Linked DNA regions of Homo sapiens: regions 1 and 2 are each linked to region 3. Evidence: fine-mapped expression QTL. A gene starts in region 3. Each other region holds a variant in brackets. All regions are shown on one strand. Distances are from middle to middle. Region 1 has its middle 37 kb from the start of LCAL1. Region 2 has its middle 31 kb from the start of LCAL1. Region 3 holds the start of HMGN3-AS1 (HMGN3 antisense RNA 1).

Evidence for each region.
Region 1: its variant is fine-mapped to the expression of HMGN3-AS1 in whole blood (INTERVAL, PIP above 0.99).
Region 2: its variant is fine-mapped to the expression of HMGN3-AS1 in lymphoblastoid cells (GTEx, PIP above 0.99).

The regions. Positions count from the first base shown.
Region 1 is chr6:79,274,243-79,279,475 of GRCh38, reverse strand. No RefSeq gene overlaps it. Among named protein-coding and RNA genes, the nearest start is that of LCAL1, 37 kb to the left of the region's middle. The variant A/C (reference allele first, on the strand shown) is at 2,946.
Region 2 is chr6:79,341,362-79,346,594 of GRCh38, reverse strand. No RefSeq gene overlaps it. Among named protein-coding and RNA genes, the nearest start is that of LCAL1, 31 kb to the right of the region's middle. The variant G/C (reference allele first, on the strand shown) is at 2,549.
Region 3 is chr6:79,231,424-79,236,656 of GRCh38, reverse strand. HMGN3-AS1 (HMGN3 antisense RNA 1) reads right to left here and starts at 2,983. Exons shown (of 2, transcript NR_040671.1): 1 at 2,730-2,983; 2 at 1-2,595. It overlaps HMGN3 (high mobility group nucleosomal binding domain 3), which reads left to right and starts at 1,975. Exons shown (of 7, transcript NM_001201363.2): 1 at 1,975-2,111. The coding sequence starts at 2,097. RefSeq lists enhancers at 1,857-2,646, 2,647-3,437 and a silencer at 2,650-2,699.

The sequences.
Region 1 (5,233 bases), 43 kb before region 3:
CCACTGATCCCACTGTATTCCTTTGCTATAAATCCCAGATTTAGTAAACGTCCCCCTCAGAGCTCTTGCACCATTCTGGACACACTCCTCTCATAGCAAGTACTACTTTATTTGGAATTATCCCCTTATGTATGTGGCTCCTGTTCCACACAATTTTTCATCTTTATATTCCGAATGCTTGTTATATAGTAAATACTCAAGAAATGGTGGTTGAATTTTTAGTGAAGACCAGATGCTCAGTGTGAATAACATTTCCCTGTTCTGTCTGGAAAGTCTGACCAAAAAGAAATTATTGTTTCATTGGACGTAACTGTTCCTAGCAAACTCAAGTCCTAGTGCCCAGTGCTTTTTCTACCTAGAATCAAAGTTTTCTATAAAGCAATACATAAGAAGTAAATATTTAGAATTTTGTAGGCCATATGATAATCTTCTCAACTCTGCTATTGTGGCATGAAAGCAGACATAGACAATGCATAAATAAATTGGCATGGCTTCCTTGGAATGTAACTTTATTAACAAGAATAAGCAATGGGTTGCATTTGGCCTGTGGGCCATAGTTTGCCCAATCCTAATCTAGAAGCTTCCAAACAAACTTTTAAAAAATCCACTATTTCTCTCCCACAGGAGGTCTACATGCTACTACCATATCTCTCATAATCCCTGCTATACTCCAGCAATTTTTGCAAGTGCAGTCAGTACTCTCTCTCTGGCTGTGGAGAGTATCCATGGGCTCGACATCTGAGGATTCAACCAACCTTGCATTAAAAAATACCTGGTAAAAATGGATGGTTGTGTTTACTGAACATGCACAGACATTTTTTCTTGTCATTATTTCCTAAATAATAGAGTGTAACAATTATTTGCATAGCATTTATGTTGTATTAGATATTACAAGTAATCAGGAGATGATTTAAAGTATATGAGAATATGTGCATAGGTTATATACAAATACTACACCATTTTATATAAGGGACTTGAGCATCCAAGGATTTTGGTATCCTCTGGGAGTTCTGAAACCAATACACTGTGCATACCAAGGGACGACTGCACTCAACACCAACATCAATGGATGGCAGAAATTTACCATCAGTACCATTAAGAGTGTGAGATGAAAACATGCTCATGTGTTGTTGGGGAAAACAGAGATTGACCTCATCAAGAGGTTAGAGGATTCACTGAGCATGAAGTGATATGTGTGATCATCATCATGCCAAACCCAGGCCAGTACAAGATCCCAGATTGGTTCTTAAACAGACAGAAGGACGTGAAGGATGGAAATTACAGCTGAGTCCTGGCCAAAGGTCTGGACAACAAGCTCTGTGAAGATCTGCAGCAAATAAAGAAGATTCTTCCCCACCAGAGACCATGCCACTTTTTCTTTCTTTCTTTTCTTCTTTCTTTTTTTTCTTCTTTCTCTATCTCTCTCTCTCCCTTTTTCTCTTTCTCTCTTTCTCTCCTTCTCTTTCTTTCTTTCTTCCTTTCCTTCCTTCCTTCCTTCTTTCTTTCTTTCCTTCCTTCCTACCTTTCTTTCTTTCTTTCTTTCTTCTTTTCTTTCTTTCTTTCTTTCTTTCTTTCTTTCTTTCTTTCTTTCTTTCTTTCTTTCTTTCTTTCCTTCTTCAAGACGTAGGATCTCACTATTGTCCAGGCTGTATTGCAGTGGTGGGATCATAGCTTGCTACAGGCTACAACTCCTAGGACTCAAACAAACCTCCCTCCTCATCCTCCTGAGTAGCTGGGACTACAAGTGTGTGTCATTATGCCTGGCTAATTTTTGTATTTTTTTGTAGAAACAGGGTTTTACCATGTTGCCTAGACAGGTCTTGAACTCCTGGGTTCAAGCGATCCTCCCACCTTGGCCCCCCAAAGTGCTGGGATTACAGGCATGAATGACTGCATCCAGCCAAGACATGATACTTCAGCTTTCATGTCCAAGACTAAGCATACTGAGGCCACTGGCCTCTATGGCCACATCATGTTTGTGTCCCAGAAGAAATAAATCTATAAGCCTTGTCTATCAATAAATAGTTTATATACCTTTAAATATCCAACATCTAGTCACTGATGTTTATTATGCAAAATCTCCCACTTCTTCAAAATGGGAACAGTATTTAACCATGCCCAGTTTCCTGCCACTTCTACCACCCTTTACAGTTCTACATTCTTTCCAGATTAGATCAGCAATGCAATTTGAACATCTTCCACAGAACACTGGGATGCAAGTTATCAGAGTTGGGAAACTATTTAGAATATAATTATGTTCTCCCACTTTGGGCTTCTCTTTCTCTTGCTAAGGAGTCTCTCCTTCCCTCCTACTCCTCTCCCTACTCTCCTCTGCAAAAAGACACAAGTAAAACTGAGGTTGAGGAGCTTGGTTTTTTCTAAGTAATCTTTCAGTAATAGATCACTGCTGACTAAACTACACCCAGTAGGCTGCTGCATCTTTGTTTCTCTTTGTTAAATACACTTTAAAAGTTTTATTTATTGTTCCTCGAATTTTTGCAAACCTGAACATATTTCTATCTCTAAGTTTATGCCACCCCTATTTACTTGCTTTTGGTCCTGTTTCCTTTCTTCATATAACACTCTTTATCCTGTAAGAGGACAGTTTCCTTCGCTGCAGTGGGACCACAGACTATAGAGAATTAGGACCTGGAAACAGAATGTGCAGTTATAGGGGAAAGTATCCAGCTGTGGCTGATGAGGAAGCAAGCCAGCTCATCAGACTTCACTATCTATTAGAATGTGAAGCTTCATGAAGGCAAGGGGTTTTTGTTGTCATTGTTGTTGGTTTTGTCTATTTTATTCACTGTTATATTTCCAGGTCCCAGAACAATGCCTGGCATGCAATAAATATTTGTTGAATGAATGAAAAATGGTTATCAATAGGCAGGGCAACATCCACGTGAAAGGTAAGCCAAAAAAGAGTATTCACCACTACATGACCA[A/C]GTAGGCAGTGCCCAATTATGGGGGATCCAGGACAGGCTACAAGCAGACAGCACTAGAAAAGTCTGCCAGCAGTTAGCAAGGCTTCAGCACTGCTGACATGTTAGGAAAAAAAAGAAAGACTGAGGTTAAGAAGGGTTCAGGCCCAGAGGCCATGGCCAAACCCAATTTTTAGAAGTAGGCCTTATTCCTGAGGCTAGCAGCAAGGCTGTCTTGATGCTGATTTCCAAGTACGCAAAAGCCCCCTAAATTCCTCCTGTCTAACCTGTCTTCTGATTCTAACCTAAAGATTTGAAATGCCATTTCCCAAAAATCTATCAGTCATAGTTTTTCTTTAGAATCAAAAGACGAACTAAAGGCTTTTTGAGAAATTTCTCTGTAATCCTTCCTTTGTGTCCAAGCAGAGCCCCCACACAGTAAAGCACAAAACTGGATTCAAAGATTTAGCTAGCAGCCATGGTAACTAGGGTCCCTGTAGAGTGACCCATGGGTAGTGATGTTTCAGAGCCCTGGGGAGCAGACCAAGTAGGACCTGATTATTTTTTAGAGCGAAACTCTAATTGGCCTATATTTCCTAAGTTTTGCATTTGCTAAGTAAATTTTTAGAGGGTGAGGGTATGTAGAATATAAATATTAAAAACAAAGAATAAAAGAGTTTTTACAGGCAAAGTAACTAGTCAGGTGTCACATTTTCTTGCAATTGACAAACACCACTTCTTGCTTGGAAGGCTGCATCTTTAGTTCCTAACTCAATGCCTGGTAGGAGACAATAAAATGTATTGAATGGGTGAATAAATGAATGAAATAGCTAGTCAATTAAGTTCATTTCACCATGTTTTGTCTATTCCAATTTTTTGTGTCAGAATTGATGATTTGAATGTAACTCAAAGTCTTGAGAGGTGCCTCATTGCTTATTTGACTCAAGGGATCAATCAGTGATAGGGTCCCCTGCTTAAGGAACAACAGAATGCTGCTAAGAGGTCAGGTACAAATATGATGTTCCATTGACTTACAAAGTCATTTTTCTCTACTATATTTTTTAAAGGCCTTGAGTAAAAATCCTTGAAAGAGCTCTTTAAAAAGACTGTGTCATGTACCAATCATATGGCAGTTGAGGTACTTTCAGTGTAGAAAATAGTGAAAATAAACAAAGATTTAAAAATCTACTACAAATTACATAATACTTTTCATCTATAACTTTTAAATCAAAACACAAAAACATTTGTAAAAAAGTAATACACATATGTAAGAGACATACTTATGTTATGATTAAGATCGTAGACTTTGAGATTAAATGACCTGGATTTGAAGACCAGTTTATCCATTTCCTGGTCTCATGATCTTCAGCAATTTGCTTAACCTCTCTGAGACTGAGTTGCCTCACCTGTAAAATGGGGGTCATAATTACACCTACCTCATAGCATTTTTATGAGGATTAAATGAGATAATGTGTGCAAAGGGCTTAGTACAGTACAGAGTATAAGTACAGTAACTATTAACATTTATTCAGCTTATTAACATACATACTTTATGTAAATATTAATTCACTTGTTCTTGCAGTAATTTGGTGACTTCTCAGGCATCTGAAACACACAGATTGAAAAACACTGCTGGATTCAGTAGGAACTGGGACAAAGGGTATCTTCAGAAAGAATAATGGAGACCTGTGTTGTTGCTGAAGGAGATGGAGCTTGGGACTTGGAAGACTGGCAGAGCTGCTTCTCCTTAGGAGCTCTGGCTGCTACTGGAGCAGCCCCAGGAAGGCTCTGTCACTAGGAACAAGAGCTACCACTAACTGAGTTAGTCCCTGGGAGCTGGACACTGCTGCTGACAAGTACTGCCAAGATGGTCCGTGGTGGTCTGCCTCTGGGACCCTGCTGACTACACACAACAATTGAGGCTTACAAAAGAGGAACTAAGAAAATCCAAAGATTTGGAAGTGTCTGACCCTTTCTTCCCTTTATGGCTTCTCACTTGCACAGAAGAATTTCAGCCCAACTCTCCATGCAACATCCAATAGGGGACAAAATACTATGCTCTATCATTACACCCTCATTGAGGAGGGTCAATAATCATTTCTCACCAAGAAAGTAGGAGGTCAGAAAGTGGATGAGGAATCAACCTAGTTTAGAGGATTGATCTAGAATCTTGTCCTCAGGCTTCTAGGGAATTATCTGAGTCTTTTATCTAAGACAAATGCAACAGTTTTCTTTCCAAATGCTCAGAAAAATAGTGATGATGATGATGATGATGATGTTCATTTGTATACATTTACATGCAACCACAGCAT
Region 2 (5,233 bases), 110 kb before region 3:
TTTAAAAAAATAGCTAACATGTATTGAAATCTTACTATATGCCAGGTGCTGTTCTCATAGCTTTAGATGTACTGATTCATTTACTCCTCATAACAAACTTATGCAGGTAAGTACTACTCATCACAATTGTAAAGACAGGGAAACTGGAGCACAAACGGGTTAGGTAAATTTTCCTGTATATGCTGTGTACGGCACAGCCAGGACTTGACTCCAGTTGATGTGGTATTGGAGCCCCCCTTAATTGCTATGTTCCATTGCACAGCTTTAACCATCACCTCCTGAGACTGAAGCTTTTCTCACACCCTGCTTACAGTCACCAGTGCTCCTAAAAGCAGAACCTTTATTCCAACCATAGAAATGAAAAGCTTCACTTTGAAGAAATGAAATGTACTCTAAAGGTAAATACTATGTTATTTAAACATTCATCTGAAAGCAGTCTGGAAATGAAAGAGTCAACAAGTATTTGAGAAAAACCTAGCGCAAAGAAAACATAAATTCCAACAAAGAGATTTAACTCCCAAGAAAACAGAGTTAACATAGAAAATAGAATAAAATAGCCAAACAAATATCTCTGAAAATCCTATTTTCAGAGATACAAGGGGTTGTGTTCACACATACTACACACAGATTGGAGTTCTTGATTAAAACATGATTACTGAAATTAAAAACAGATTATCTAACAGAATGAACATAAAAGATCAAGTTAGTGAATTGAAAGACTAAGCAATTCTCTCAAGGTATTATGTGAAAGCAAGAGCACAAAAGTACAAGAAAAAATGTTGAAATAGAATCAGAAGTTCTGTGATAGGCAGAATAATGATCCTTCAACGATGTACCACATCCTGCATCCTAATCCCTAGAACCTGTGAATATGTAACCTTACATAACAAAAGTGACTTTGCAGCTGTGAGTAAATTAGGGATCTTGATGTGGGGAGATTATCCTGGATTACTTACACAGGCCCAATGTAAGGACTTATATAAGTAGGATCCCTTATGTAGGGTCCTTATACATGAAAGAGCAAGGAGGATCAGAGGCTTAAAACAATACAGATTTATTATCTTAAAGTTCTGTAGTTCAGAAATCTGAAATGGGTTTCACTGGGATAAAATCAAGGAGTTGGTGGGGCTGCATTCCTTTCTGGAGGATTCTCTAGGGGAGGATCCATTTCCTTGCCCCTTCCAGCTTCTAGAGGCTGCCTCCTTGGCCTTTGGCATCCATCTTCAAAGCTAGCAACAGTGCGTAGAGTTCTCACTTCACATTGTTGACCTCCTCTTTTGACTCCTTTTTCCACATTTATGAACCCTTGGGTCTATCCCAAGAGTCCAAACCAATCTCGCTATTTTAAGATCAGCTGATTAGCAACCTTAGTTTCATCTACTATCTTAAATACCTCTTTGCCACATAATGTAACATATTCATAGGTTCTGGGAATTCGCACATGGACATGTTTAGGGGACCAATATTCTGCCTACTAATCCTGCCCCCTATTCCTAACTTTAAATGCCTCCCAATTTTACAATGTAGATCATTTCAGGCATGCCCAAACTTCTACCTTTAAACTTTCCCATTCCAATATACTCTTGGAAGGTGGGGTTTGGTGGGGGACATAGGGTTGTTTTTTAGTGTACGTAGACAAAAATATATTGGGTGTCCTGCCCAGTGTACTCTTCGGGGTTTTGCAGCCTTTTGTGGGCTTTGAGCTACTTTGCAAGTCTGTAAATTGTAGAAAACTAGAAAGCTGATAATAATGCAAATGACTTTGTTTATAGAAATGCAAATATTGTCTAGGGGAATACAACTGATTACTGCCCTATAGATATTGACCTAATTTGCCAGTTTGTATTCATTTTTCAAGTCTTAGCATGTCTATATATTTGTTTTCTCTTTGAATACTCCTTTGAAATGAGTTGTAACATTTTATTGATTCCCTCATTAATTAATGAGTTAAATAAAATTTTGCCACCCATTCACAATTACACTCCTTTTAAAATTTTTCCTTTAACAGTAAAAATTTTATTATAAATGGATAGTCACTGGAAAATTTTCTTCAACTCAGATGTCCATAGAAATGTAGTTAATTATTTGTTAAAATTTCTCTGATTTCCTTTACAAGAGATCTCACCTACTCACTGGAGATGGAGTGGTGAGCAATCTAATGTTAACCCAATCCAGATTAAAATTTAGTCTTATCCAATAATATAAACTCAGGTTTAACCCAGTCTTTTCCACTCAATCTCTCAGTTTCCCTCTTCTTTTCACTTCTTTTATGTTTATAGAGAACAGGGTAGGATTATAATGACCTAATTACTTCCTTGCTGGATTCTCAGTGGCTCTGCAGACCACTCTAAGTCTTTATTCCATCTTGCACATGGCCTCCAATCTAGAGGTCCATGCTAAAACCTCATTTCTCCCCAGCAGTCTCCATGAGGGGCCCAGTGCTTCTTAACTCAGTGTGGACACCATACTGACACCCAGAGAGGGTTGGGAGAGCCAACTAGACCCTCTTTTGCCATATCACACAATTTGTCTGAGAGGAGAAATGTGG[G/C]ATTTAGGTATTTTTTTTTAATTTTATGACAACTAGAGATGTTTTAAAGTTGCAATTGAAAGAGGAAAAAAAATCTGGAGTTTACACCCAAAAGCGTAAATAATGGTTCCTCTGGACAGTGGAATTATGATGGCTTTCAAAGTTCCTTTTCCTTTTCTATATTTTCTGATTTTTAGTAAAGAATATATAAAACTTTTTGTTTAGGATTGCCCTGGCTATTGGGGCTTTTTTAAATTTTTGGTTCCATATGAATTTTACAGTAGTATTTTTCTATTTCTGTAAAAAAAATGATGCTAGTAATTTGATTGAAAGAGTGTTGAATCTATAGATAGCTTTGGGCATTCTGGCCATTTTTAATGGTGTTGATTCTTCCAAACCATGAGCAGGAAATGTTTTTCTATTTGTTTGTGTCATCTATTATTTTTCTCAGCAGTGTTTTGTAATTCTTTTTGTAGAGATCTTTCACCTCCTTGGTTAGATGTATTCCTAAGTATTTTATATATTTCTTGGTTATTATAAAGAGGACTGAGTTCTTGATTTGACTCTCAGCTTGAAAGTTAGATTGGAAAAAAGAAAATGTGGTAATATACACCATGGGATACTATGCAGCCGTTAAAAAGAATGAAATGATGTCTTTTGCAGCAACATGGCTGCAGCTGGAGGCCATTACCCTAAGTGAATTAGCACAGGAACAGAAAACCAGATACCACATGTTCTCACTTATAGGTGGGAGCTAAACATTGGTTACTCATGGACATACAGATGGCAACAATAGACACTGGGGACAGATAGAGGGCGGAGGTTGGGAGGGAAAGGGTTGAAAACCTACCTATTGAATACCATGCTCATTACCTGGGTGATGGGATCATTTGTACCCCAAACCTCAGCATCATGCAATATATTCTTGTAACAAACCTGCACATGTACCCTCTGAATTGAAAAGTTAAAATTATTTACAAAAAAAGAATAGATGTAACAAATTATTTATAAAAAAGAATATATAAAAGTAATAAAAGTCATTTTAAAGCAAGTTACAAAATTGTGTGAATAATGTGCCTTCAACATGTTAAAAACGTGTATACAAAAAAGACGTAAATAAATTACACTGAGACGTTAACAGTGATTGTTTAAGATTGTGCGCAATGTTTTTGTGTGTATGTATCTATTAAAATGTGGGGATACAACAAAACAGTTTCTGATGTTGGTTGGACTCAGCTGTTTCCAGCCTGGTGCTAATCAGTCTAGACTTCGGTTGGGTAATAGTCCCTTCAGAAATATTGTGTTCCACAGATATCGACTAAATTTCAATGTATTTAATATGGTCAGGCTTTGTGTCCCCACCCAAATCTCATCTTGAATTTTAATTCTCATAATCCTCATAATCCCCACCTGTCAAGGGAGAGACCAGGTGGAGGTAATTGAATCATGGGGATGGTTTTCCCCATGTTGTTCTTGTGATCAGGAGTGAGTTCTCACAAGATCTGGTGGTTTTATAAGGGAGTCTTCCTACTTCACTCGACACTTCTCCTTCCAGCTGCCTTGTGAAAAAGGTGCCTTGCTTTCTCCTTCACCTTCCGCCATGATATTAAGTTTCCTGAAGCCTCCCCAGCCATGCTGAACTGTGAGTCAATTAAGCTTGTTTCCTTTGTAAATTATCCAGTCTTGGGCAGTTCTTTACAGCAGTATGAAAATGGACTAATACAGTATTTATCAAGGTTCTACAAAGGAACAGAACGAATAGCAATGTGTGTGTGTCTGTGTCTGTGTTTATATAGAGAGAGCATCCAAGTCTTGTTTCTTATTTAAGCAAGAATGATCATAGTGTTTCATATTAAAATGGTGTGTATATATATGTAGTCTCTGATGCATATACTTAAGTTGAAGAATGGTCTTTCTAGCCATAGCTTAGTAATAATGTTTTAGTTTTGTTGCCACTGCTGTTGTTTCAGATAAGGAATGGATGTAATAGGGATTTTTCTTCCAAAATGCATTAAGAGATTTTTTTATTGCAAGCCATCCTTCAATTACTGAGCTAGGTCTTACTTAGCCATGATATATCCCTCATTTTAACATGTGTCAGAATTTTGTTATTTAGGTTTTTTGTATCTATGTTCATAACTGAGTTTGGCTTGTGGTTTTCCTTTTTTCTACTACCCTTGTCCAATTAAGGTATGAAGATCATGCTAGCCTTACAGAATAAGGTGAGAAACTTGTCATCATTTTATTTTATATATATTATATATATATATATATATATATATATATATATATATATATAGAGAGAGAGAGAGAGAGAGAGAGAGAGAGAGAGAGAGAGAGAGAGAGAAATTTATTTTTTTAAATTGGCTAACACAATTGTAGGGCTGGAAAGTCCAAATTTTGCAAGGCAGGCCAGCAGGCCAGAGACCCAGGGGAAGAGTTGACATTGCAGCGTCAAGTCCAAAGTCAGTCTGGAGGCAGAATTCATTTTTTCTCAGGGGACCTCAGTGTTGCTCTTAAGGCCTTCAACCAACTGGATGAGGCCTACCTACTTTATGGAGAGTAATCTGCTTTACTCAGTGTCTACTGATTTAAATGTTAATCACATCTTTAAAAAGGCATCCACAGTAAAATCTAGACTGGTGTTCCACTAAACAACTGGACACCATATTCTGTCCAAATTAGCACATAAAATTAACCGTCACA
Region 3 (5,233 bases):
TCACCTTAGCACTACCTTTGTTGTGGCACCTTTCCATCTCCATGAAGAAAAATAGCCATCCAGTCCAGATTGCAAGTGCTACTCAGTATCCTTCTCACACATATCTTACTAAAAATGTTTTCACTGACTTTTTCTTTATTTAACTATCAAGTATTTGGCAAATTAATATCTTGAAAGACATCTTCATTATAAATATTATTTTAATGATAAAATTATTAACTTGTAAATTTTTATCTAGCTCTAAGCAATTGGTTTTTATCTTAATTCGTTTCAGTATACTATTGTCATTCACTGAATGCCCAAGAACAGGGAATCTATCAAAAATGATTAAGATCATGTCAAAAGGACACAAGCACTAATTTGAAAGGGTATGCATTGGCTAAAGATGTGGTAATAGGAGCATTAAAAAGGTAATAATAATGATAGCAATACACTGATGCACACCAAATATGTAAAAATCCATGAGTTCATAAAGATGTTCCAAAAAAGAAAGTAATCAACCACCTCTGGAGAGTACTAGATCAATTAATGTATTCTGAAAATTACTAAAGAAAAAGTGAAATATTAAACTTCATTGCTTTTTTAATACATATTTAATACATGATATTTTTAATACATATTTGCAGCCTCTGTGTTACCAAAGTGGATTTGGCCATATTTGTAATGTAAGGCTTCAACACATTTTCCTATGATGTGAGCTTTGCCTGCTAAGATGATTCTGAAACTAACTTTGCCCAATTTTGCTTTTTCTATAATTTCATATGAATGCAATCATTCAGTGTGGTCTTTTGTATTTGACTTCTTTCGTACAGCACTTTGTTTTTGATATTCATCCATGTAGGAAAATTTTTTATTGTTTTTTATTGCTGAATAGTATTCCACTGCATGTGCTCATCACAATTTGCTTACCCATTCACTAGCGCTTTTCCTGCATCTGCTGAAAGGATTGTTTTTCCCCCTTTATTCTATTAATCCTGCCAATTACATTGATTGATTCTCAGATATTAAAAAAGCAGCTTTGCATTCCCAAGATAAGCCCCACAGGTCATGATGTATTGTCCCTTTAAATGTTGTTGAGTTTCATTTACTAAAATTTTGTTCACGACTTTTGTGTCTATGTTTATGAGTGATATTGGTCTGTAACTCTCTTTTGAAGTCTTTCACTGGTTTTGGTATCAGAGTAAATCTGGTCTCATAAAATGAATTCAGAAATATTTTTGCAATGCTCATTTTATGCCTTGCAGAACTTTGAGAAATATTACGCATAAAGTGTAACATGACGGGTGTCATTCAAATATATGTCTCAAATATAAAATAATCAGTTTTTGCCTTGTTCTTTCTTTTCCTAATTTCCGTAACAAACATGTCCTATTCGTCTTCACATCTAGTTTGAAGTTAGCTGAATTAGTGAGTGATTTATAATCACAGATTTCAGAAAATTAGAGCTAAGTGATTTTAGGGACTGTTGTCACTATATATCTAGGGGGGGAAACTGAGGCCTTTAGAAGTTGCCACGCTCTTCCAGTACAGAGTACCTTCCCACGCTTTACAGATTCCCACCATGTAACATTCATTAAAAGCCTTTATGGGTAGGAAATGAATAAGGTACCTGCTGTGTATATATTTACATTATAAAGTTTACGTATTCATTCTTACTCTTTTTCCTTCCTATGAAGACACACACTGTTCTTATTCTTACAATCTCAAAGAGAGAGCAGCGAAACAATGAAACTTCAGGATTGTGTGGCCTGGAGGCTACTAGTTGAACTGGGCATGCTCAGTCGCCAGGCAGATTTTTTTCGGTGAAGTGGAAACTACAACAGCGCGTACCGCGCGCGGAGGTGGGCGTGCCCTCGTGGAATTTAGAACGTTGCCTCAGCCAATGGGGCCTCGCGGCCGGCTGGCGGGGCTCCTCATTGGAGCAGCAGGGAGGCGAGCAGAGGGCCCCCAGAGGGAGCCGCGGAGGTGCAGGTCGAAGAGGCCGGGCTACGTCGTGCCCTGCGCGTGAGCAGCTGCAGAGGCAGAGGCAGCATCCAGCGGCGGCGCCAGCAGTTCCAGTCCGTTGCTTTACTTTTTGCTTCACCGACATAGTCATTATGCCGAAGAGAAAGGTAAGTCTTACCAAAAAAAGATTTCAAAAGCCTTCAAATTCTGCTTACAGTAAATGCTGGCATTGCAATGGCTCGCGCAGAACGCGCGCGGTAGTAACCCGGGGATTGGGAATCTTTGCTCCTCCACGCTTGTTTTTAGATGCCTGTTGCAGACGTTCCTCTCTCTGTCCCCCCTACCCACTCCGTCCTCATCGATCTCTTAATGTTACTTTCTCTCCAGTGACGCGGTTTCCCTTCTTTTTGAACTCATTCTCGCTGGAATGTTTTCCACCCCCAACAACAAGAAGCAAAAGCGGCTTTCCATTCCGAAAGGGAGTTTCCTCTTTGCAAACTGCCAGGTTGCGAATTAGTGTGAAGGGAAAACAGCGAGAGGAGAAAAACAAGTACAAGCGTAAGGAGAGGGAAGAAAATAAATCAGGCAAATGTTGGGATTATTCCCATGCGGCTGTACTCGCGGGCTGGGTGCGCTGCGGTGGCTCCTAGGCTAAGGGAAAGAGAAAGCCATGTTTAAAATAGCGCTCACCCTCCTGCTCGCCTCCGCTGCAGACCCGTATGTACCAACTCCAGTGTCAATCAGGGCTGGGGCCGGCGAGGCGGGGCCTGGCGGCCTGGACCTACCCGCAGTTCGGGGCGGGAGCGGTGGAGTTGGCAGCGTGGAAGACGGGACGGCGCCGGGGCGTCCAATATGGCTCGTCCAAGGTCAGGGGGCCACCAGGTCCTCCCCAGCGACTGGAACCCACACTCGGTTGGGGAAGGCGGGGTCCGCGCGCTATCCGCCCCTCTGCGCGTCTAGCGAACTGGAGTCATTTTTGTCTTGTCTTCCGCCCCTTGCGGACTGTCCTCTTCTGCGCAGGCCCCGGACACCAACTACTACATTCAGGGACACAAATCTCCCTCGGGGTGGGGCTTCGACTTGTCCCGGGGAGGGAAGGGAAAGGTTTCCTCCTCCCTGAGAAATCAGTGAGGATTTCTCAGCTGGTTCCTAAGCAAGTGCTTTGCACCCTCCCACCGCCAGCCTCAGTGTTTCCAACAGTGTCAACGAGTGTGGGTATTAAATTTGAAGCAAAATTACACCTAATGTCTTGCTTTATCAAAGACCATGGACTAATTTGTGTGTGAGAGTGACTGCATTATTTTAAAATACTGAAGTTTTAAAAATTCAAAAGCTTTCCCCTTCTTATATGTTATTACTAAAAATTGGGTAGAAACTTGTCTCCTACCCCACTTTTTAAAAATAATTGAAAGTGTTTAAAAGTCTTAGAGTTTGTTGTGCACATACTGTGTCCCTCACGCTGTGCAGAATTTGACTTGCATTATCTCATTTAATCCTGAAAACAGCTTGAGCGGTGTTACCCCCATTCAGCTGGGACTTAAAGACATAAATTGTCCTGCATCTCACCAACCAATAACTACTAGTAAAGATTTAATCAGATGCTATAGATGCCAAAGTCTTATTCTCACCCATTTCGTACTCACTTACGAAAGGGTGGGTCAAGAGGAATTAAGGAAATCCAAAGGTACTCCCAGTTTAAGAAGACAGATGGCATATTAAGAGCACTAATACTTGAGATTTATTATTTAAACTTAATTTTATGAAGGTATTTTCTAGCCCTGTTTTACTAGAATTAGGATATTAAGTGATGTCACCATTTTCAGCATTTTGACTGAGGGTTAATGATGGATTGGAAATTCTAGTAGAGACAAAGGAACTAATCATCAAGATACGGGTTACAGAGTAAGTGAGCTGGAGGCCATCTTTTTTTCCTGGGAATTATAACCATTGTTTACATAAACAGTAGGTTAGGTGTGCACACTTTATGTATAATGGACCCTGACGATGGAACCCTTCCTTGCTGTTTATTCAAGGGCCAGAGCTGCTGAAACCATTATTCTTACTTCCCCTGTCTGCCTCTCTCAAGGAGACGGAAGGAAAAAAAAAAAAAACTAAAATAACAGTAAAATTACAGCTACAGTTTTATTTCCCTGGAAGGCAGGGAACCCCCATGCATAAGCTAGCCAATGGTCCTGAGACTAGGGGCAAAACTGTGTACAGGCACCTGTGTGTCATTCCTGAGGACATCAGAGTGTTCTCCGGTGATGGAAAACCTCTCCTTGATTAATAGGAAGGCTTTCCATTTATACCTGAAGCCTAACGACCTCAGTTGGTACCTGGGCAGGAACAACCTCAGATTAAACACGGCGATCATGGCCATCCATCTATCAGTCAAGTCTTAGAGCAGCCTCATGGAATCCTGAAGTTCACTGGAACTTATGTGAGGAACCACTGTCATTAGGTAAAGCCTGCTTAGATACAAAAAAGAACTGGAGACAATCCATGCATAGCTCTTCAAGATCTTCAAAGCTGGGGTAACTGCCAAAGCATTTACATACTACACAATATTTTTCTTGACTAAAGAATTGTCTGCTCTACAATATAATAAGCTTTTAAAATGTCCCCCTAGTACTTTTTTGCCTTCTTAGCCCCCTGTATCAACCTTTCCTAGAAATCAAGAAATGTTATTTAATGAACATCTGAGTAAGTTGTTCTGCAGAGCAAGAAGTGGTACAGATAAAGTCAATGAAAACATCTGGAATCCTAGCCCTGTTGTAATGCTGTAGGGACATACAGTTTTTGCCCTCTTGGAACTTGTGTTTAATTCAATGAGGTGATAAGACTAGCAGCACAAAACAGTTGAATAACATTAAAACTGTGTATGTGTTCCAGAATGTGTAGTTATAGATCCCACAAGCAGTAGGACAGATAAGGAAAGTTAACTTTAGGCTGGTCTTAAAAGTGTGGGTAGGACTCAAATATACAAAGAAGTCAGAGTCATTTTTTGTTACCAGGTATTCAAGTGTGTCTCCTGATTGTATCTTAACATGACCAGGCCTCAGTTTTGCAACTTCAGGGCTATAATATCATCTGAATTAATATTAAAATGTTCTGATGACATTTCTTTGTAAGTTTTATGTGTATCTTTGTGTGTGATAGTCATAACTACATTAAGCCAAGTGGTTTTTTATAAATGCCATAGTATTTTGTGAAGTAATACAGCACTTAGTGAAGAGTTCTTCAGTGCATATTATCTCTAAGTTTGTGAGATGTAAATAAAAGTGAGTTT